7 linked regions of the Homo sapiens genome follow. The protein of the gene in region 6 interacts with the protein of the main gene of each other region in a biochemical or structural test. Each region holds a gene or a part of one and is shown on either strand. Other genes may lie near its edges.

What was found.
Region 1: the proteins of RHOA (region 6) and MCF2L are reported together in a solved structure, tested with the Homo sapiens proteins (one study listed by BioGRID).
Region 2: of the proteins of RHOA (region 6) and ICMT, one has a biochemical effect on the other in vitro, tested with the Homo sapiens proteins (one study listed by BioGRID).
Region 3: the proteins of RHOA (region 6) and CIT form a complex in vitro, tested with the Homo sapiens proteins (2 studies listed by BioGRID, with this or other methods).
Region 4: the proteins of RHOA (region 6) and SH3GLB2 form a complex in vitro, tested with the Homo sapiens proteins (one study listed by BioGRID).
Region 5: the proteins of RHOA (region 6) and ARHGAP5 form a complex in vitro, tested with the Homo sapiens proteins (one study listed by BioGRID).
Region 7: the proteins of RHOA (region 6) and DGKQ form a complex in vitro, tested with the Homo sapiens proteins (one study listed by BioGRID).

What each region holds. Positions count from the first base shown.
Region 1 is NC_000013.11:113,070,214-113,073,713, reverse strand, and holds part of MCF2L (guanine nucleotide exchange factor DBS), read right to left. Parts: intron 1-3,500. UniProt on the Homo sapiens protein: Guanine nucleotide exchange factor that catalyzes guanine nucleotide exchange on RHOA and CDC42, and thereby contributes to the regulation of RHOA and CDC42 signaling pathways. Seems to lack activity with RAC1.
Region 2 is NC_000001.11:6,223,329-6,225,964, reverse strand, and holds part of ICMT (protein-S-isoprenylcysteine O-methyltransferase), read left to right. Parts: intron 1-702; coding exon 703-885; 3' UTR 886-2,636. UniProt on the Homo sapiens protein: Catalyzes the post-translational methylation of isoprenylated C-terminal cysteine residues.
Region 3 is NC_000012.12:119,867,321-119,870,820, forward strand, and holds part of CIT (citron Rho-interacting kinase), read right to left. Parts: intron 1,882-3,500; coding exon 1,740-1,881; intron 1-1,739. UniProt on the Homo sapiens protein: Plays a role in cytokinesis. Required for KIF14 localization to the central spindle and midbody. Putative RHO/RAC effector that binds to the GTP-bound forms of RHO and RAC1. It probably binds p21 with a tighter specificity in vivo.
Region 4 is NC_000009.12:129,021,832-129,025,331, reverse strand, and holds part of SH3GLB2 (endophilin-B2), read left to right. Parts: intron 1-2,908; coding exon 2,909-3,050; intron 3,051-3,500.
Region 5 is NC_000014.9:32,157,304-32,160,228, forward strand, and holds the end of ARHGAP5 (rho GTPase-activating protein 5), read left to right. Parts: 3' UTR 1-2,425; downstream 2,426-2,925. UniProt on the Homo sapiens protein: GTPase-activating protein for Rho family members.
Region 6 is NC_000003.12:49,363,477-49,366,976, reverse strand, and holds part of RHOA (transforming protein RhoA isoform 1 precursor), read left to right. Parts: intron 1-3,500. UniProt on the Homo sapiens protein: Small GTPase which cycles between an active GTP-bound and an inactive GDP-bound state.
Region 7 is NC_000004.12:963,570-967,069, forward strand, and holds part of DGKQ (diacylglycerol kinase theta), read right to left. Parts: intron 3,486-3,500; coding exon 3,395-3,485; intron 3,234-3,394; coding exon 3,179-3,233; intron 2,959-3,178; coding exon 2,897-2,958; intron 2,733-2,896; coding exon of another isoform or gene 2,510-2,732; coding exon 2,359-2,509; intron 1,961-2,358; coding exon 1,922-1,960; intron 1,723-1,921; coding exon 1,607-1,722; intron 525-1,606; coding exon of another isoform or gene 507-524; exon of another isoform or gene 1-506. UniProt on the Homo sapiens protein: Diacylglycerol kinase that converts diacylglycerol/DAG into phosphatidic acid/phosphatidate/PA and regulates the respective levels of these two bioactive lipids.

The sequences.
Region 1 (3,500 bases), on a different chromosome or scaffold from region 6:
TGAACTCCTGACCACAGGTGATCCACCCGTCTTGGCCTCCCACAGTGCTGGGATTACAGGTGTGAGCCACCATGCCTGGCCTGATTTTTAAAACATATGACCACTTATTCCTTTAAATACAAAAGCTTTTAATTTTTGTTATTGGAAATGATCCTGAGAATGGGTGTGTACGCAGACATCCCAGTGCCAAGGGGGTTGTAGTTCAGATGGCCTGGGGTTGAAGGCCAGGAAGGCAGGATTCTTGTCCATCCTTGAACCCCCTGCATCTGGCACAGCTGATGAGTGAGACTTCTCTCCATGTTACGCACAGCCACTGAGTTATGGATAATGCACCACCTCTCAGAAACTAGCTCGGATATAGAAGAACTCAATACCATCAACCAACAGGATCTAACTGATATGTATAAAACTTCACCTAACAATAGCAGAATACACATTCTTTTCAAGTGAGGAACATATACCAAGAAAGACCATATTCTTGGGCTGCAAAACAAATCTCAACACATTTATAAGAACAGAAATCATACAGAGTATGTTCTCTGATTACAATGAATCAAACTTGAAATCAAGAATGGAAAGACAACGGGAAAATCTCTGAACACTGGAAGCCAAACAACATACATTTAAAGAATGGATGGGTCAAAGAGGAAGTTCCAAGGGAAATTGGAAAAAAAAAAAAAAAAAGCTGGAGTAAATGAAAAAGAAAATACAATACATCAAAATTTGTGGAACACAGCTAAATCAGTGATGAGAGGGAAATTTATAGTGTTCTTATTAAATATGTATGTTAGAAAAGAGGAACAGTCTCAAATAAAGAATGTAAGTTCCCACCAAAGCAATTTGTAGAAATAATAAAGGTAGGATCAGAAATCAATGAAACTGAGAACAGAAAACAACAGAGAAAACTAATGAAACAAAGAACGAGTTCTTTGGAAAGATGAGGAGTGATACATCTCAATCTAGATTGACAAAGAAAAAAGGAAAAGATGCAAATTACAAATATCAGAAATGAAACAGGGAATATCACTACAGACCCTGCAGACGTCAAAAAGATAAGAAAGAATACTATAAACAACCCTACACATTGCCTTGAAAAGCACACTACTATATCTCATTGTGAAACAGATAGTTTCAATAGTTGCGTAACTATTAAGGACACTGAATTCATAATTTTAAAAGTCTCCCAAAGAAATCTCTAGGCCCAGATAGTTTTATTGAGCATCTACAAGAATCCTACAACTAACATTACACCTGACAGTGAAAAACTAAACACTTTCCTCCTAAGGTTGGGGACAAAGCAGAGATGTCCAGTCTCGCCACTCTTATCATATGGTGGAAGCTCTAGTTGGGGCAGTACGCAGTGGGGCAGGGTGTTGTGGGTGGGGGGTAGAATAAAAGGCATATCTTCAAAAAGGAAGAAACCAAACTGTCCTTATTTGCACATGACATGATGGTCTATATGGAAAATGTCAAGGACTTCACAAAAAACCATCTCAAATACGTGTGCTCAGCAAGGTCGCAGGAGACAAGATAAATATACAAAAATCAATTGTGTTTCTATGTGCAGCAATGAATACATAAATGCCAAAATTAAAAATATAATACTGTGATGACTTCTTAAAGTGGAATATTAAAGGTAAGTCAAACAAAATACGTACTGAACTTGTGTGCTGAGAACTACTCGACACTGATGAAAGAAATCAAATGTTGGGAATACCATGTTTGTTGACTAGAAGAGTCAACACAGTAAAGACATTTCTTCTCCTTAAAATATAGGTTTAACACAACTCCTATGAAAACCCCAGGAAATTTGTTTTCATATATGTAGACAAGATAATTTTAAAATTGCCATGAAAAGGCAAAAGAACTAGAAGCTAACACAATTTTGAAAAAGAAAACAAAGAGGGAAGAATGAGTGTACTTGATTTCAAGACATTATATAGTTGCAGCAATTAAGACCTTGTGGTACAGACAGAGGAAGAGGTATGTAGATAAACATAATTGAATAGAGAGTCTCCAGAACAGACCCACACAAATGTGCCCAGAGCTTTGACAACGGTGGAGAAGAAATCCAGTGGAAGAAAGGGCCTTTTCAACAAACAGTGCTACAGCAATTGGACATCCAGAGGTAAAACAAATCATGATCTAATTCTCATACCTTATACAAAAATTAGCTCAAATTAGGTCATAGACTTCAATGTAAAACTATGAAATTTGAGGGGAAAAAGGCTTAGGGGAATATACTTGGAATCTAGGACCAAAAGTATAAACCTTAAAAGGAGAAATTGACAAATTGGAGTTCGTCAAAATTAAATGCTTTGGCTACGTGAAAAACCCTGTTAAAGAGGATGAAAAGACAAGTTACAGACCAGGAGAAAATATTCGCAAACCACATATGTGGCAAAGAACTAGTATCTGCAGTATATAAGGAATTCTCAAAATGTAACAAAACCGTAAAACAAAAGCACAAAACCAAACAATCCAGTTAGAAAATGGGCAACAGAAATAAGACATTTTACCAAAGAGGATATGCGAATGGCAAATAAGCACGTGGAAAGGTGTTTAGCACCATCAACACTGGGGAAACGCAACAGAAAACCACCGTGAGATGGCACACACATCAGGATGTGAGCATAATATGAAGAATCACTACCCCACCACGTGCTGGGGAAAGGGGAAGCAACTAGTCTCTCATACACTGAGAACCGTTTGGCATTTTCTTAAACGAAACATGCAACTACTATATAACCCTGCAATTACATTCTGGGCACTTAAGCCCAAGAAATGAAAACTTACATTTACACCAACATCAGTATATCAATGTTTGTAACAGCTTTATCTGTAATACTCAAATCCGGAAACAACCCAGATACCCTTCAACAGGTGAATGATTGAAAGAACTGTGGTCCGTCCACACCGGGGAACACAATGAGTGAGCCACCGGCACCTGGGGGTCTGCAGAGAGCTGTGCTGAGCAAACAAACAAATCCCGAGAGTGACATTCTGTGGGATTCATTAATGTCACATTCTTGAAATGGCAAAAGCACAGCCACGGAAACAGATGAGTGGTTGCCGGGGGCTGAGGAGGGACATGGGTGAGTCCACGAAGGGCCGCAGGAGGGAGACGTCTGGGTCTGGCTGCACTGGCCGTGTCGCTGTGCACCTCATGACTGTGACGCCGTCCTACAGTCTGGCACACAGCAGGCACATCCTACATGCATGTTGAATAAAAGGGCATGCAAATGACTATGAAGGGAGAGCAAAGGCTTCCTGCTACTTTACGAATAATGCAGTGTAAGTGCATCCCAGTGAGCTGATTTTCAATCACCTTTCTATACAATGACGCAGTCATCAATCGTGCATTTCAAGGCTCAGCCTGACTTAATCTCACAGGCTCCACCTGGCAAGCGGAGACTTTTCTGCATTAAGCCAAAGTCAACTGGGTGGCACGGCTCAGCTCCCGGCACTGGGACCAGGGCGCAGGCACAGGAGGCCCCGTG
Region 2 (2,636 bases), on a different chromosome or scaffold from region 6:
GAGAATCACTTGAGCCCAAGCAGTTAAGGCTGCAGTGAGCCATGATCACGCCACTGCACTCCACGTGACAGAGTGACAATCTGTCTCGGGGGAAAAAAAAGAGGCAAAGTGGGCACAGCGTGGGGAGGGCAGGAGACTGGGGAAGTGGGCGAAGTGCTGCTCTTCTGGGGTTGGAAACCCAGACTCAGGGGGTGGGGTTCAGTCTCTGGAGCTCTCTGAGCGTGGAGGTAATCTGCTGGAAGGGGCATTTCGGAAGCTGAGTTTTGTGGCACTGTATCTCGTGCTGAAGCAGAGGCTGTGGGTTTAGGAGGCAGAGGCCCAGGCAGCTGTGGTGTAAGCGAATGCATTTGTGGTGGGAGGGTCCTGGGCAGGAAGGCAGCGTGCATGGGACCTCATGTTGGGGAGCTCACACCTGGAGGTGGGGGGCATTGCTGTCACCCCAAGCTGAGGGTTGAAATCCAAGAGGTTGATCTTGTGATTTACAGATCTCTCTCATGTAAGAGGAGCAACAGGAAAGCACGTGAGAAAGGCCTGCAGCACTGAGTGCTCAGGGCTAAGGTGACAGTACTGCTCCCAGAGACCCTGACGGTCTCAGCAGGGCATGGGCACAGAAATCCTCTGGGTATTAGAGACAGACGCCTACCAAAGCACAGGGCGTCATCCCACGGTCACCCTGATGAGCCTGGTGTCTCCCTCTGTTAGGTGATGCTGTGTAACCCCATCTGCGGCGTCAGCTATGCCCTGACAGTGTGGCGATTCTTCCGCGATCGAACAGAAGAAGAAGAAATCTCACTAATTCACTTTTTTGGAGAGGAGTACCTGGAGTATAAGAAGAGGGTGCCCACGGGCCTGCCTTTCATAAAGGGGGTCAAGGTGGACCTGTGACGGGCAGTGGCCCCGGTGACCTTGGGGCCTCCGACCCTGTGCAGCCTGGGACAAAACTGTTTCCGGTTGGCCGCTGCCACATGGATTTTCTTAATCGTTTTATGTCATTAGTCACTCTTCTGGAATGTCACTCAAGACCAAGCGGTCAGAAGGCCTGAGGACCCAAGGCCCCACTGGAGCAGTCTGTCCTTATGCCGAATCAAGGCGGAACATGGGTGAAAGACGAGTAAGGGGCAAATCACAGCAATATTCCACAGCGCCCTCCAGAGTTACCTGGGGAGGACCGAGGCCACACGCCACTGCCCCCGAGGCCAGAGTGTAAGTAAAGGATAACCAGGACTCGCTGGGAGAGATGGACTCTGTCCTCAGCAACACTCCACAGCAGAAAGGGGTAGCAGGTACCCCTTCTTATCAGCGGTAAAAATGCATTTACAACCTTTCATTTAACCGAAAAACACAGACCGCTTTAACCTCTTTATTTCTGTCCCCCACTGCATGAACATCTATACAATTTTAAAAATACTTCCTCATAGGATGCTTTGGCCCTTCATCTATTTAATCATAGCTACATACCTATTTTTTATAAGTAGCAGTACACATTCAAAGGGGTATTCCTAGCTCAATGCTTGGTGTTCTAGTTCAACTTTTATCCTGCAGCAAGTAAGCCTAGATAACTCTACACGATTTGGCTGAGTGGCTTTGTGTGACCGTGGCCCCAGGCCAAGGGGATCATGGCCCTGGCTGGCTTTCCCGGGGGTCTCAGCTCCTGTTGTCAGTGATAGGCGGCTCAAAGGAGCATCAGTTTCTTTTGATCCAAGAAGTGCTTACTGAATGCCTGCCCTGTGCGTGGCCTTAAACATTGAGAAGTGCTGCTCTCCGTTTATTTGGGATTTGATTCTCATTTTACCATAGCTTATATTCTCAATTTCAATGCCAGTCTCAGAACTCTTGTTTTCTGTGTTCTGTTCTCAAAATTACATTGTCCCTCATGTCATTTCAAACTGTTTTCCAAAGGGATTTGAGCATATACAACTACAAATCCAAGCAGATTGACTCTCAAAAATAATCTTAAATACTGCAAATAGTCCCAACTAAGATTCAGTCAGTATGTTTGTTTTGCAAGTTTGGGAGAGTAAGTTGGCTTTGAGTCACACATCGAAGCTTTAAGAGGTGAGACGCTGGCTTCATTCTGGACTAGACAGGAACTTGGCCTCAGCGTGAGATCCTGCCATGCAGTGTTGCGGTGGCACTGAAGAAGTGTGAATGTGAAGGCGGCGTCGGCGCGGGGCCAGAGCACCACTCTGCTGCCCCACCACGCGGCCTGTGAGGAGCCACTAAACCTTTCCGTGCCTAGACCTCCCCATCTGTGGAATGGGGTCAATACCACCTACCTCACAGGGGTGTTGTGAGGACTGAGAAGAACAATGTCAAATGTTTTTAATACTCAGATGTGGGAGCGACATCAATGAAATCTGTACTGTATGAAAGCTACACAAAAATGGGCAGACATTTGGTTAATTGTGCCAGATACCTAAAATGTATGTTCAGAAAAGCATTTTATCAACTCAGAAATATGACTTATTTCTAGATTTCATGGCTTAATGAATTTTTTCATTGTTATATATACCAAAGAGGCTTACGGGTTCATTGATTGGTTTGAAAACCAGACAGACGGCCGGGCGCGGTGGCTCACGCCTGTAATCCCAGCAATTTGGGAGGCCAAGGCGGGTGGATCATGAGGTCAGGCGTTC
Region 3 (3,500 bases), on a different chromosome or scaffold from region 6:
TGGGATTACAGGCGCCCGCTGCCACATTCAGCTAATTCTTGTATTTTTAGTAGAGACAAGGTTTCACCATGTTGGCCAGGCTGGTCTGGAACTCCTGACCTCAAGTGATCCGCCGCCTCAGCCTCCCAAAGCGCTGGGCTTACACGCATGAGCCACCGCGCCCAGCCACAGTGACTATTGTTTTAAGTCAGTAATATTTAGGGTGGTTGGTTGCACAGCAATGTTGTACAAGGTGGGGTTTCTCAAATTCAGCACTGTTGGCATTGTGGGCTACATAATTCTGTGTTATGGGGGCTGCTTTGTGCACTGTAAGGTGTTTGGTGGCATCTCTGGCCTCACCCATTAACTGACAGTAGGACCCTTCCCCCCAAACTCACACACCACCACCCCCAACTAGCTCTGACAACCGAAAACGTCAAATCACCCACTGGTTGAAAAACACTAATGTAAGAGTATGAAACTGGGACACTAACAGCCAACTGCCTCATCACATGGAAGTCAAGCAAAGTCAGAAACAGGGTGAAGGCAAGGCCAATATATGACTTCATAGGCCCTAGGTACTTTTGCCTTCCTCAGCCCCTTCCTCCATTAAAAACAAAAAAGAATTCAAAAATTATATTTTATGGGGCCAGGCATGGTGGCTCACACCTGTAATCCCAAAGCTTTGGGAGGCTGAGGCAGGAAGACTGCTTCAAGCCTGGAGTTTGAAACCAGCCTGGGTAACATAGTAAGACCCTATCTCTACAGAGAAAAAAGCAAAAATTAGCTGGGCGTGGTAGTGTGAGCCTGTAGTCCCAGCCACTGGGGTGGAAGGATTGCTTGAGCCTAGAAGGTTGAAACTGCAGTGAGCCATGATATACCACTGCAATCCAGCCTGGGTAATAGGGCAAGACTCTGTCTCCAAAAAAAACAAAAATTATATTTTATGACTACATTAGTATAAAGATGAATGTAATCCAGAATCATTATACATTATTATATTCATTTTTCCTATAATTTTAAAACAAATTAAAATTTAATTCAGTTAATTAAAAGTAATTAAATTCATTAAAATTAAATATCACAGATCCTAAGCACCGTGCCTACTCTGCCTAATAGAAAGTCAGCCCTGAGTGAGTATAAGGACAGGGCCACGGGATATTATTGAGGTCTCTGGAACTAGCTATGCCTAAAGCTAAAACTTAACTCATTCCTGGATTTCTCAGTTTCATGAGCCAATAAATTCACTCTTTTATTCACACAGGGTCTCACTCTGTCACCCAGACTGGAGTGCAATGGCACAATCACAGCTCATTGAGCCTCAACCTCCCGGGCTCCAGTGATCCTCCCACCTCAGCCTCCTCAGCAGCTGGGACCACGGGTGCAAGCCACCATACCCAGCTAATTTTTGTATTTTTTGTAGAGATGGGGTTTCACCATGTTGCCCAAGCTGGTCTTGAACTCCTGGGCTCAAGCGATTCACCCACCTCAGCTTCCCAAAGGGCTGAGATTATAGGTATGAGCCATTGCACCTGGCCTAAATTCAGTCTTTGAATTAAGTTTGTCGCTTGCAACCAAGAAGCCCAACTTACCTGGTCTCCCAGCTATAAGAGGTGCAGCCTGAATTTGAACCTGGATCTGTCTTATATAGAACCAGAGTTCTTACCGACTACTATCAACCAGTAACTCATTCTGCCTCAAGCATCTTTCTAGTTTTTCTCTCTCAGGACAGTTTTCAAGAAAAAGTTCCCCAAACTTACACTTCCGGACAAAGTTGCTCACGTGCTTAATCTTCATCAGAGCAGGCTGACTGCATTCTTCAAAGAGAACAAAGAGGGCATCTAATATCCCTTCTCGGGAAAGAGGAGACATCTGCTGTTGAGTCATAAAGGGTGGTTTCCCCTAAAAACAGCAAACAGCAGATGGAGACACTGTCAATAATGAAAAGCTTTGATCAATAACATCCACACAGAGTAAATTACAAGCCACCAACTCAACTAACTGCTCACGACATGCTAACAGCACAATTCTGTGGCTTCATTCTTTAAAGCAACGTCAACTGACAGTCATTATGGTATCACTTCCATGATTCCAAGACTGTGGGTTTCTTTCACCAGCACCTGGGAAGGAAAACTGCACAAGCGTGGCCATTAACAAGAAAAGCTCCCTCACTCCTGAGGGTCTGAGGCTAGTGAGAATATTTCCTCTGGATCCTCTGGCTCTGACATGCTTCCATGTTTCTACAATAGGAAACAATGGGTTTTTCACTTCTTTCATGTGTGCCCAGGGGTTTATTCATATAATTTCAGCTTTTTTAATTCATTTGAACAACCTAGAGTAATAAGAACTGAGTGACCATCGTAAAGCCAAATTTACTCATGATCTGGAGAAATAGTTACAAACTGGCAGACTGTCTCTAGCCCACAGATATGTTTTGTTTGGCCTGTAGTGTTTAAGATAATTTGAATTATCTGCCAATATTTCAAAATCAGGAGATTCCATACAAAAAAATAAAAATGGAGTCTCTGGCTTCTTTTGAAACACTGGCACATCCGGCAACACTGCCTCGCCTTCCTGCCTGATGACGCTGAGCTGGAGCTGAGTAATGCTGCCCCTCCCGGTAGCAGATGTGTTTGGGAGTTCACTGCAGGTCTGACTCCATCTTCCAACTGGCCCACTTGACTCATTTATACTCACTGCCTGGCCCCCAAAGACATGAGTCTGCAACCCTGGTATAGAGCAGTGATTCCCACGTGCCAAGCCATGGATAGTGGTGGTCTCTCTTCAAAGATGGCCTCCAACAGTTCCTCCAATTCTGTAGGCACATGCTACTCCTTACTTTAAGCGCTGGAGTCTATTTCTCCTGCCTTTGAATCTGTGCCATCTCTGAGACTCTCTTCAACCAAAAGAATGTGACACAAGTGACACTGTGCCAGTTCAGGGCAGTGCCTTTAAGAAGCTTGTCAAGCGGCCAGACACGGTGGCTCACATCTGTAATCCCAGCACTTTGGGAGGCCAAGACGGGTGGATCACTTGAGGTCAGGAGTTTGAGACCAGCCTGGCCAACATGGTGAAACCCTGTCTCTACCAAAATACAAAAATTAGCCAGGCGTGGTGGTAGGCACCCGTAATCCCAGCTACCTGGGAGGTTGAGGCATGAGAATTGCCTGCACCCGGGAGATGGAGGTTGCAGTGAGCCGAGATCACACCACCGCACTCCAGCCTAGGCAACACAGTGAGACTCCCTCTCAAAAAAAAAAAAAAAAAAAAAAAAGGCAGCTTAGCAGCTTCCACTTTTGGGAAGCCAGCCACCATGCACAGATGCTTGGGCTAGACCAGGGGTGTGCAATCTGTAGCCCTTGGACCAAATCCAGCCCACGGACTTTTTATAAGTTTTACTGGAACACAGCTACACCCATCATTTACATATTGTCTTTAGCTGCTTTTGTGCTACCATGGCCAAGTTGAGTGGTTGCAACAGAGACTACAGGACCCACAAAGCCTAAAATATTTATTACTTA
Region 4 (3,500 bases), on a different chromosome or scaffold from region 6:
CTCGGCCTCCCAAAGTGCTGATATTACAGGTATGAGCCACCATGCCTGGCCTTTTTTTTTTTTTTTTTGAGACGGAGTCACTCTGTCACGCAGGCTGGCGCAGTCTCAGCTCACTGCAGCCTCCGCCTCCCCGGTTCAAGCAATTCTCCTGCCTCAGCCTCCCGAGTAGGTGGGATTACAGGCGCCCACCACCACGTCATGCTAATTCTTGTATTTTTAGTAGAGATGGGGTTTTACTATGTTAGCCAGGCTGGTCTCGAACTCCTGACCTCACGTGATTCACCTGCCTTGGCCTCCCAAAGTGCTGGGATTACAGGCGTGAGCCACCATGCCTGGCTTCCTTGCTGTCTTTTTTTTTTTTTGAGATGGAGTCTCGCTCTGTCACCCAGGCTGGAGTGCAGTGGCGTGATCTCGGCTCACTGCAAGCTCCACCTCCCAGGTTGATGCCATTCTCCTGGCTCAGCCTCCCGAGTAGCTGGGATTACAGGCGCCTGCCACCACGCTTGGCTAATTTTTTGTATTTTTAGTAGAGATGGGGTTTCACCGTGTTAGCCAGGATGGTCTTGATCTCCTGACCTCGTGATCCGCCCACCTCGGCCTCCCAAAGTCTTTCTTTTTTTAAGGCAGGTTCTTGGTCTGTCACCCAGGCTGGAGTGCAGTGACATGATATTGGCTCATTGCAACCTCCGCCTCCTGGGCTCCCACCTCAGCCCCTTGAGTAGCTGGGACTACAGGTGGGTGCCACCACGCCCAGCTAATTTTTTTTTTTTTTTTTGAGACTGAGTCGCACTCTGTGGCCCAGGCTGGAGTGCAGTGGGGCGATGCTCATTGCAAGCTCCGCCTCCCAGGTTCATGCCATTCTCCTGCCTCAGCCTCCCGAGTTACTGGGTCTACACGTGCCCGCCACCACACCCGGCTAATTTTTTGTATTTTTAGTAGAGAAGGGGTTTCACCTTGCTAGCCAGGATGGTCTCGATCTCCTGACCTCGTGATCCGCCTGCCTTGGCCTCCCAAAGTGCTGGGATTATAGGCATAAGCCACCGTGCCGGGCTTTTTTTTTTTTTTTTTTTTTTTTGTAGAGAGGAGGTCTCACGGTTGCCCAGGCTGGTCTTGAACTCCTGGGCTCAATCCATCTGCCCACATCGGCCTTCCAAAGTGCTGGGATTATAGGCATGAGCCACTGCACCTAGCCAAGGCTTTTCATTAATGATGGTGATAATAATACTAGCTAACATGTATCAGCCCCATACTGTGTGCTGGCCAAATAGCCAATGAACTAGATCCTGTTATCTGCATTCTCCAGGCAGGGGCTCTCAGGTCCAGAAGGGAGACTTTGCCTCTTCGAGCCTTGGTTTCCTCATTTGGGAAATGGGGTGAACGCCACCCCCCTCAAAGGACTGGGTGAGGTAATAGAGCCACGAGGAAATCTGAGCCTCTGCTCTGGAAGGTCTCATTTTGGGGAGTGTGACGAGGAAGAGGAGGCAGAGCCAGCCAGGGTGGGGGAGGGAGGCCAGGAGCAGCTGGCCCCAGGCAGGAGCTGAGGCCATACCCCTGGCAGCTGGGCCCTCCCAGCCCTGCAGGGAGAAACCCAAGCTCTGCTACATAATTGATGGCTGCTGAGCTCCTGGTGGCCGCCCAGCCCGCCACCCCCCACCGCAGCTGGAGCCAACTGCAGCCAGGGATGATTCATGGCTGACCGACTCCTGCGTGGCCCTGCCCCTTGCTCAGCCTCAGTGGCAGCATCTGTGAAATGGGAAACAGCCCTCCTTGCATTAGAGGTTGATGAGGTCATGAGGAAACCCTTAGGACAGGGCTGGCCAACAGTGTTTGTTGTTCCTTATCTTACTCCTGCAGGTCTTCACCCTGGCTGTGACCTTGGGCAAGCCCTTTCTCTTAGCTAGAGAAGGCCTTGGTGTCCCCGTTTGGAAAATGGGGACATGTGTTCCAGGGCCCTCTTAGATCAGAGGGGCCAGGACTTGGACCAGTTTCTGGTTGTTCCTAGGTAGCCCCCACGGCTTCTGCCAGCTTTGATGGGGACCCATGCGACATCCGGGCCCTGGGTGTGCCCAGCCGCTGGCTCTGATAGGCTGGCAGTGTTTCCATCTACCCTACCAGGTGGCCAAAGCCAACCGTTTGGCCATCCTCCCTCCCTGCATTCCCCTTCCTTCCCAGACGTCTCTGCACCCATCAGCTCATAGCACCGGTGCCTTACGTGGGGCAGCAGCACTGTAGCCGACCCAGCCTTTATGTCTAACCCACATCTTTCCTCTTTCATCCTCATAACCTATGGGGGAGGTGCTATTATTCCCTTTTTTCAGCTCAGGAAACCAATGCTCAGAGAGGCAGAGCCCCTTGCCCAAAGTCACACATCTTGACAGTGGCAGAACTAAGACTTGAATCAGGTCCTTCTGAACCCCGACCCTGGGTTCTTCCTCTCCCTCCTCTGGCACCCTCTCCCTAGCAGCTCCCAGCTGCCCATGGAGCCCCCTGATAACCCCAGACCCTACTCCCTGCCCTGTTTGTCCCGAGTACTTTCTACCAAGTCCTCTCCTTCAGAGTCAGACTCAAAGGACCCTAGGGCTGGCCTCCCCAGGGTTCCTCACCGCACTAAGCTGTGTGCCAGATTGTATATGAAGGTGCATTTTTGTGGGGAGAGAGTGTAGCTTTCATTGGATTTCCAAAAGAAGCTGTGATTCCCACACTCTGGCCCAGCCACCTCATTTCACAAAGGGGAAAACAGTGAGGCCCTGCCAGGTCACACAGTATCACACTCAGGGCTGGTTCCTTGACCCTGGGGCCTGCCTGGGTTCCTGCTGGTGGGGAGGGGCAGTCCTCCCTTTCCCCACCACTCCCCCACCTCCTTCTGAGCTCTCCCCCTCCCCACCCCTTGGCCTTCCCCTCTGCGTAGTTCACGGAGGAGAAATTTGGCCAGGCTGAGAAGACTGAGCTTGATGCCCACTTTGAAAACCTTCTGGCCCGGGCAGACAGCACCAAGAACTGGACAGAGAAGATCTTGAGGCAGACAGAGGTGCTGCTGCAGCCCAACCCCAGTGAGTGCGTGTTCGTGGGCCCGGGGAGGGATGTAGTCGTGGGGCAGGGATACAGTAGGAGGCCTGGCCCTGTTGTGGCATAGGTGGGGCGGGGCTGCAGCCGGGGTTTCAGCTAGACTCTTGGGCTCAAGGCTGTTGAAGAGGGACAGTTAAAAGAAAATGGGGGACTCTGTGTTGGGCTGCCAGACACTCCAGGGCAGTGGAAACACTGAGTTTTGCACAGAAGAGTTAAAATGCCTGGAAGCTAAAACACACGTGGGAGAAGAGGCAGGCAAAACACACACCTGGTTGGTCACTCTGTTGGTTTTTTTTTTTTTTTTTTTGAGGTGGAGTCTTGCTCTGTCACCCATTCTGGAGTGCAATGGTGCAATCTTGGCTCACTGCAACCCTTGCCTCCTGGGTTCAAGCGATTCTCCTGCCTCAGCCTCCTGAATAGCTGGGACTACAGGC
Region 5 (2,925 bases), on a different chromosome or scaffold from region 6:
CATAATTAAACTTTTTTCTGGTAAGTTACTGGAAGGTTTCACTGTTTAGGGACCTATCATATGAGACTTCTTAAAGGATTAAAAGAATAGGATAGTCTCATAATTGTGAGTAAACATCAAGGCATTATATTTTACAATACTGAATAAAATTTCATCTACACACATGTTGCCATTGTTTCATTTAAGGTTCAGTGCTTATAGTTAACTACAATATTGGACCTAACAGGATCTAGATTAGCAATATAAAGAAGCATAGTGGTACTCTGTTTCACACTTTCAGTAGATTTATTAGAAGTCAAATTCTATTCAACAGACACTTATTAGGATATACAACTAATTTAAGAATAAAATTCCAGGCACAATATATTTTTTTTAAATGGTATTTGTTAGTAGTGCTTCTTCCCCTTAACATTTACAGTGTAAATACTGCAGGTAACCGCAATCTAAGTTAGCCAAAAAGCAGCTTTTTTTCCCATACTGTATGTAAATAATGTAGACCTGGGTTTTTTTGTTTATTTGGGTTTGTTTTTTTTTTTGAGGTACTGGAATCTAATTAATATCTCTTAGGTATCAACAAAAGGGAACAATTGGAATGAGAATTTAGGCCTTAGCTTCCATGGTGATTTTTAGTTTTTTATACAGTAATAATTGTGATGCTATTTGTCAACTGGATATAAATACACATATAATTTTAAAAAGTCAAAAGTGCTTTTGTTTCTTTGTTTAATGTAATTTTTGTGCTTCACCTACAGGATGCTGCAGTAAATTAAATATCAGTGAAGCTTCTGATGTATAAAGAATGCTATGAATAAAACATTAAGAAGCTGTGTAATTTTAAGTTATAGTTGCCTCTATTTTTACCATTTCATTGGTAAAAATTAGCTAATTTTTTTCAAGTGAAATGAAAAATAAAAATATAAATTTATCAATATGATGGAAATCTTATTAAGGAGATGTATTATTGAATTTTCACTGTACCTGAAAAGGAGATTCAAAATTTTTTCTGGGGATGTATATAGGTGAAAATTTGATTTTTTAAATTATCAGGAAAACAAGATAATGCACAGATTTCTAAGACTAAGATCTTACCTGGATGTGATTTTTGAGCTGTGGCTAGACATTCTTTAGAGCCACTGGAAATATTTTGAAAACTATTCTAGTTATAGCAGAGCTGCTAATATTAACGAATATATTTGTGTCTTCATGGTTTGTGACTATTAGGCCAAATTTTGTGGTATATGTTGTCAGTCTGGATCTGGTGAGGTCTGTTCAACATGAATCTTTGTGTTATCTTGAATTTAGTAGTTTCAAGGTACTTAAATTCTTAACAGTTTCTAATTTGTTTCAATACATATGGGACATGGTTGATTTTTTTACTGTATTAGAACTCTTGGAAGTTCTTAGCCTTTTCAGGTTATGAAATACCTGAAAGTAAAATTTTCTAAGATTTAATAAGGGAAGATACTATTCAAATCATTTTCTTAGGATAGCATCTTTACATACAATGAGAGGATTGTACAAGCATTAATCTCATATTCCAACATCCAGTTACTTGATGTGATCCAAGTACCCTGGTCTTTTTGAAGCAGTTAAAATCTAATTAATTAACTTTGGGAGTCTTCACTATTCAATTGATCCTCATCATTGTCCTATTTGCATGACTCCATTTTTTCCTCCACTATATGAGTTTTCTTTGTCAGGGGGAGAGGAGTGGGAAGAGTCACAGAATCTCATATTCACATCTTAATTAAATTGTGTGAAATTAGTCTTTTGTGGAAATTCTGTAGGCAGTATGATTTTGAAAAGCTAACCAATGATAATTAGCATTTTAGTTAATACTAAATGCATAAAATTATAACCCTTGAAATTAATTTGGTGCTGGCAGTTCTGGTTTAGTCATTTTTACCAGTAGTTAGTAGTATTAAGACCTGCAGTATATGCACTTTTTGAGTAGCTGTCAAATAATTGTAGTTGAGAAACAACTTGTTTATTCTCACAATTCAGATTTTCTATTCAGTTTTGTCTCAAATAGTAAGTTATTGTGAACAATTTAATAACGGCCCTCCTGTTCTAGTTTGCCTAATATTTTAGTTAAGATTTAGTGTTTTAACCTATTTTTTTAAGTTTATTTTTTGTATTAGATTTTATTTGAATAAGTTATGTGGGTTTAGTAATTGACCTATTTATTCATTGCTTCACTAATTCATCCAGATTAGTTTTAAGTGTGTATATGTATTTGCTCACCAGATCATTTTCTTGGGACCTTGAACTGTGAATGTTTTGTCCTAACCATTTAATATTTTCTAGGTACTTGCTGCAAGTTCTTGAACTATTTTACCAGCTTTAACTTTGGGGCTCTTAGTTTCTTTTCTCCAGATTCTTGTTATTTTATTTTATCCAAATAAATATTTAGGTGTTCTAAGAAGTAGACTTCTGTTTAATTCCGTAAAATAAGTAAAATCAGAAGCTGTACACACTATCATACTGTTATTATTTGGGATTGTTTATAAATGTAGGTGAAAGGATAAAAAATACCTATCTGAGAGAATACAGTCTTTAGATATCCTTCTTGGAAATTTGACTTAGAGATTTTTCATTTGTTGGCAGTCACAGGCATAGCTGCTGAATGTCTTTTGGTCTGTAATATTTGAAGTGAGAAACATTACCAGCAATGTACTTTTAAAATATAAACTAAAGCCAGGCATGATGGCTCATGCCTGTAATCCCAGCACTTTGGGAGGCTGAGGCAGGGACATCACTTGAGGTCAGGAGTTCGAGACCAGTCTGCCAATATGGCAAAACCACATCTACTAAAAATACGAAAGTTAGCCTGGCATGGTAGTAGGCGCCTGTAGCCCCAGCTACTCAGGAGGCTGAGGCATGAGAATTGCTTGAACCTTGGGGGGGCGGAGGTTGCAGTGAACC
Region 6 (3,500 bases):
TTTGTGCTGAAGATGATGAGGTATCTATTAATAAACTTGTGCTGCAGCCCTCCCTGTCATGACAGGGCAGCAGGTGGGTCAAGGATGTTGTCGTCATTACCACAAACAGCCTTTGAGGGTCTGCTTGTGGCCTCGGGTTGCCTGGATAGTTAGTGTTAGAGTGATTGTGTTGTTATGGTTGTCCCTACCTTAATGATGATAACTGGGGTTGCTCCAAGATATTGAGCCACTTGTTTAAGGTCATGCTGGCCCAAGGAGCTGAGCTAAGATTGAGTCCTCTGTGCAGTATGTCCCAGGACAGAGAAAGAGCACGTATTCCATGCCGTTGGTTCACTTAGATCATTTTCAGCAGTTATGATTGATTGATTGATTTAGAGGCGGGGTCTCGCTCTGTTGCCCAGGCTGGAGTTGAGTGGCACAATCTTGGCTCACTGCAACCTCCGCCTTCCAGGTTCAAGCAAATCTCCTGTCTCAGCCTCCCAAGTAGCTTGGACTACAGGCATACGCCCCCACGCCTGGGTGATTTTTGTATTTTTAGTAGAGACCGGGTTTCTCCGTGTTGGCCAGGCTTCTCTCAAACTTCTGACCTCTGGTGATCCACTCACCTTGGCCTCCCAAAGTGCTGGGATTACAGGTGTGAGCCACCACACCCAGCCTAGTTTTGGTTTTCAAACTAATATGACTTCCTTTTGTGAAGCTGCTGGAAGGCCCTGGAGGCTGGGCAGAGCTTTAGGCCACAGAGAAAATTTGAGCTAGTTGACACTCTCCTATCAGATACACACATAAATAACTTCACCTAGATCCTATTGGAATGAGAAGGACTGTGTGCCTTTGCCCTCGTTATCTAGTGTATAATTCTTGAGGGAAAAAACTGCCTCCAGAGCAAAACATTTTGTCTCTTCAGTCTCACTTTTTTCTTTTTGAGACAGGGTCTCGCTTTCTTGCCCAGTCTTGAGTGCAGTTGCAGATTCAGTTTACTGCTGCCTCGACCTCCTGGGCTCAAACAATCCTCCCATCTCAGTCCCCACCCAGTAGTTGGTACTACAGGCACACACTGCTGCGCTTGGTTAATTTTTATATTTTTTAGGCCGGGCATGGTGGCTCACGCCTGTAATCCCAGCACTTCGGGAGGCTGAGGTAGGCGGATCACCTGAGGTCAGGAGTTCGAGACCAGCCTGGCCAACATGGTGAAATCCTGTCGCTACTAAAAATACAAAACTTAGCCAAGTATGGTGGCATGTACCTGTAATCCCAGCTACTCAGGAGGCTGAGGCAGGAGAATTGCTTGAACCTGGGAGGCAGAGGTTGCAGTGAGCCGAGATCGCATCACTGCACTCCAGCCTAGGTGACAGAGTGAGACTCTTGTCTCAAAAAAAAAAAAAAAAAAAGTTTGAAAATTTATTCACCAAAAGTGGCGACAGTCAATTTATTCAAATTCTATGTACCTCAAACTCCAGGAAGGGGGTAGACTATTGGTATAATTTCACATATTCAGGAAATAACTACAGCACCTACTAACAGAACATCTATTCTAGGCCAGGCACTGTGGCTCACACCTGTAATCCCACCACTTTGGGAGGCCAAGGTGGGTGGATCCTGAGGTCAGGAGTTCAAGACCAGCCTGTCCAACATGGTGAATCCCTGTCTCTACTAAAAATACAAAAAAATCATCCGGGCGTGGTGGCGAGTGCCTGTAATCCCAGCTACTCGGGAGGCTGAGGCAGGAGAATTGCTTGAACCCGGGAGGCAGAGGTTGTAGTGAGCTGAGATTGCGCCACTGCGCTCCAGCCTGGGCGACAGAGCAAGAGTCCATCTAAAAAAAAAAAAAAAAAACTTCTGTTCTAGATGAGGGAAGACAGAATAGGCTCCCCTCAATGCCCCCAAAAAAGTAAATCAGAAAATAACAACAGTAAACCCAGTAACAGTAAATATTACAAATAACATTTGTAGAGGTGGGTCATGGTTGTATGCTGTTTTGTTTTATTTATTTTTATTTTTGTTTTTTTGAGACAGACTTTTGCTCTTGTCACGCAGGCTGGAGTGCAATGGTGCGATCTCAGCTCACTGCACTCCGCCTCCCGGGTTCAAGCACTTCTTCTGCCTCAGCCTCCCAAGTAGCTGGGATTACAGGCATGCACCACCATGCCTGACTAATTTTTGTATTATTAGTAGAGACAGGGTTTCAACATGTTGGCCAGACTGGTCTCAAACTCCTGATCCACCTGCCTCGGCCTCCCAAAGTGCTGAGATTACAGGCCTGATGAGCCACTGCACCTGGTCTATTTATTTTTATTTATTTATTTATTTATTTATTTTGAGACGGAGTCTCGCTCTGTCGCCCAGGCTGGAGGGCAGTGGCACGATCTTGGCTCACTGCAACCTCCACCTCCCTGGTTCAAGGAATTTCCCTGCCTCAGCCTCCCTAGTAGCTGGGATTACAGGTGTGCACCACCATGCCCAGTTAATTTTTTTGTTTTGTTTTGTTGTTTTTGAGACGGAGTTTCGCTCTTGTTGCCCAGGCTGGAGTGCAATGGCACGATCTCGGCTCACTGCAACTTCCGCCTCCCGGGTTCAAGCGATTCTCCAGCCTCAGCCTCTCAAGTAGCTGGGATTGCAGGCATGTGCCACCACGCCCAGCTAATTTTGTATTTTTAGTAGAGACGGGGTTTCTCCATGTTGGTTATGCTGGTCTCCCAACTCCCGACCTGAGGTGATCCACCCGCCCCGGCCTTCACAGTGCTGGGATTATAGGCATGAACCACTGCGCCTGGCAATCTTTTTGTATTTTTAATAGAGATGGGGTTTCACCATGTTGGCCAGACTGGTCTCGAACTCCTGACCTAACGCGATCCACCTGCCTCAGCCTCTCAAAGTTTTGGGATTATAGACGTGAGCCACTGCGCCCAGCCTATTTATTTGTTTTTAAGAGATGAAGTCTCACTTTGTCACCCTGGCTGGAGTGCAGTAGTAGCGTGATCATAGCTCACTGCTACCTTGAATCCTGGACTCCAGTGATCCTCCCACCTCAGCCTCTCAAGTAGGTGGGAATGCAGGCACATGTACCACTGTAAACTGCTAAGTTTTTGTATGTTTTTGTGGAGATGGGGTTTTTGACTTTTTTGATACAGAGTCTCACTCTGTTGCCCAGGCTGGAGTGAGTGTAGTATTGCGATCTCGACTCATCACAACCTCCACCTCCTGGGTTCAAGTGTTTCTTCTGCCTCAGCCTCCCAAGTAGCTGGGACTATAGGTGCACACCACTGCGCCCGGCTAATTTTAGTAATTTTAGTAGAGATGAGGTTTCGCCATGTTGGCCAGGCTGGTCTCGAACTCCTGACCTCTGGTGATCCACCCACCTAAGCCTCCCAAAGTGCTGGGATTACAGGCACGAGCCACCACGCTGTCTGGAGATGGGGTTTAGCCATGTTGCATAGGCTGTTCTTGAGCTCCTAGGCCCAAGCTGTCTACTTGCCTTAGCCTCTCAAAAGTGCTGGAATTAC
Region 7 (3,500 bases), on a different chromosome or scaffold from region 6:
GTGAACAGACCACACCCGCCTGGGCCATGCAGCGCGAGTCCAGGCTGGAAATCCACGTGGGACTCTGCGTGGCACTCTGTGCCAGCGAGACCAAGGCCTGTCCCCTGGGGGGCCTCTGGTGCACACCTTTGGAGGATGGCGGCTCCCAGGCCACCGCCCACCTACACAGCAGCCGAGAAAAGCTCTTAACTCACAGGGTGGCACGCGGCGTCCCTCGACCACAGGACAGAGTCCATCTCCCCACACACAACCCCAAGAAACAGTACCCAGGGATCTAGACACAGCGGGCTCAGGGCTGGGATCCCTACGACAGGAGGCTAGGGACCCTACGACAGGAGGCTGGGGCCCCCACAGCGGGGAAGGCTGGGCAACAGGAGACACACAGGCTGGGTGCAGACACAGGGTGGGCAGCGGCACAGGGGCCGGCCGTGGCTGGGGGCAAGGACACACTCGGGGCTTCGTGACCCACTTGGCAGGCAGAGCCGCCTGCGGTCACCACTTACCACTCACCCCAGGGCAGGCAGCTGACGGGAGAGAGAAAGCGCGTGTCGGCCCCAAACCTGGCTCTGCCCACAGAGCGAGTGGAGCTGGGGTGGGGGCTGCATCCTCGGGACAGTGGGGATGGCCACCCTGTCCTGAGCCAGGCAAGGCCGGGTGTAGGGGCACAGGAGGGAGGCATAGCAGGGAGCCACAGGCATCTCCCGTCCCAGCCACAGACAACTCATTCTGCTCGAGTTCTGCTTCGCCTGGACTGGGGTCACGATCAAGGGTCAAGGTTCAGGGGTAGAACAGCCATGGACACCTGGGGGGTCCTCATGGGACCCTTTGGGGGCTAGATGGGCTGAGGACGAGAGGCCAATGTGAAGGCACGGTGTGCAGCGTGGAGTCCCAGGCTCCAGCCCCTCCATGGGCCAGAACCCCGTTCCCCCCGGCCCTGCCCTGTCTCCACGGACCAGACCCCCGTTCCCCCCGGCCCTGCCCTGTCTCCATGTTCCAGATCCCCCTTTCCCCCAGCCCTGCCCTGTTGCCAGGTGCCCCCTCTTCTGGGCACTGTGGGTCTGAAGGGCAGCGTTCAAAGTTTGGGAGCTGCACTGACTGGCCTGGGGAGCTCCAGGCAGAGAGCAGAGGCCCTAAGGCCTCCCGGGCAGGGGGAGTGAGGCTGAGGCTGTACCGGGAGGGCCATGCCTGGGATCCTGACAGCTGGTCACAAACACGCTCTGGCCCTTGGCGAGGCAGCCGCAGCGGGGCCCGGCACATCCAGGAGCTGCGTCCTGTGGGCCTCCCTACTGGGTGGAGGCCTCAGGTGCAGCGTGGAAGCTGGGCCTGACCCCACGGTGCCCCACGGAGCTGGTATCACCTACTGGGCAGCCTCGGATGAGCGCTGACCCTCTGACCTCAGGCCCCTTGCTGTAAAACGGGCAACAGAGTCCTTCCTGCTGTTGTGAGGCACAAACAAGGTGGCACCTACAAGCCCCCAGTGAATTCAAGGAAGTGATGCCAGATGAAAACAGCGAGTCTGGCTGTGGGGCCTGTGCACCTGCAGACCCCGACCTCCCTCTGGCCACCCCCTGGGGTGTGTGAAGAGCCGGCTTGACCGCACACTCACCAGCAGGTCGGGGAGCACCAGGGCAGTGAGCAGCCGGCCCCGCACAGCCATGTCCTTCAGCAGCATGTACAGCCGCTCGGCCTCCGCAAAGCAGGCAACGTCCAACACTACCGCGCCTGCGGCAGGAGCCCAGGACTCAGGGGGAGCCTGTCCCATGGCCCCCACGGTGCCAGGGCAGGAACCAAACCAGGACGTTTCCCCAGCCCAGGGCTGCCCAAGGGAAAGGTCAGGTGCTACGTGAGGGCCAGGGCTGTCCCACTTCACCCCAGGAACACCCCTGGGCCTCATGTGACCACGTCCCTCAGGGCAGCTCACCTTGGGAGGAGTAGATGTGACTCACGGACACCACGGTGGCTGCAAAGGCAGGCTGTGGTCAGGGCGGTGGGAGGCGAAGGACACACAGCACTGGGGCCAGGGACAGCCCCTCCGCCTGTCCAGGGGTGACATCTCACCCCAAAGGCAGCCTCCCCAGGAAGTACCCCTGCCCCACTCCAGGAGCAGGACTCCCAGCTCCCTGGAGGTACAGGACCCCCCAGAGGGAGAGGGAGAGGCAGAGGCTGAGCACCGCAGGGAACGGCCACAGAGGGCGAGAGGCTCCAGAGCCTCTTGGAGGAAGAGACGTGGGCTGGACCCGGAGCTCAGGCCTTGGTGGCTCAAGGAGAGGCAGGAGCCGGCTCAGCACTGCAGCCCCACTGCCTGCCGCTCGACCCTGCCCCGTGCCAGCAGCCCACGGCCAGCCACAGTGGTCACACCTTTGGTAGCCCCGGCCTCATGCAGCAGGCTGCTGTACTCCTCGGGAGACAGGCCGGGAGGCAGGCCGCCAACAAACAGGGAGACGTGCGGGGCTACATCCCTGCTCTCTGCCACGTAGAACCGCGTCTGGCTCACCTGCCGCACAGACATCTGCAGGGAGAGGGGCGGGGATGCTGGGCCGGGGAGAACGGCACCACCGCACCAGGCCCTCTGTCTCCTCACCCGCAAAACAGCAAAACAGGGCATCAGGAACACTCCCAGGAATTAAGTCAACAGGAAAACGAGGAAAGGGGCCACAGAGGCTTCCTTGCTGTGGACAACCCCTGTCCGTTCCCCTCGAGGACCTCGGGGAGATCTGCAGCTCGAGGCCTCCCTGCAGGGACCAAGTAGCTCATGACGAGGGCGCTGCCCTGTCAGCCAGGACAGCCGCTGCCTAGCCAAGGAGAACTCGGCGTCTGGGGCACACCCACCCTGTGGGGCAGAGGCTGTGGCTGAGGGCTGCTGGTTCCCTGGGGGCCGGCGTCCACACCCACTCACCTGCCGGATGTCCTGTAGCCGGTCCAGCAGGGGCTGTTCGTCCATCAGCATCGTCCGCTGGACTGCAGAGGTGAGGGCACAGGCCGTCAGCACCCGGCTCCTCGCCCACCTTGGAAGCAGCTGCCCGGAGCCCCCAGGGCCCGTGGGGATGCAGGGTGGAGCTGGTCAGGAGGGCAGAGCCCGGCCTTGATGTCCGGCACCACCCTGCAGGAAAGCCTGGGCAGCAGGTCCAAACCCAAAAGGTGCAGGGACCGCCACGCCCAGCACGGGCTGTCTACTCACCGTGCCTGCAGCCCATCGCCACCTCCACCAGCTGGAAGCTCTCGGGACTCTCGGCCTGTTGGGGTAGAGCTTGGCATCGGGTCTGGGCAGGCCCCCACCACCTCAGGACACCCGCGGGGACAGCCACGCCTGGGCTGGGATGGTGGCCTGGCCTCCTGGGGACAGCGACCCCCCACCGAGTCTGGCCGGCATGGGGAGCAGGCACAGGGTACGCACCTGGCGGCCGAGCAGCGGCAGGACCTCCAGCACCACAGAGCGGGCCGTGCTCTTCGGGGTCACTCGCACGGACACGTAGGCCACGCCCACCCTGTGGGGACACAGT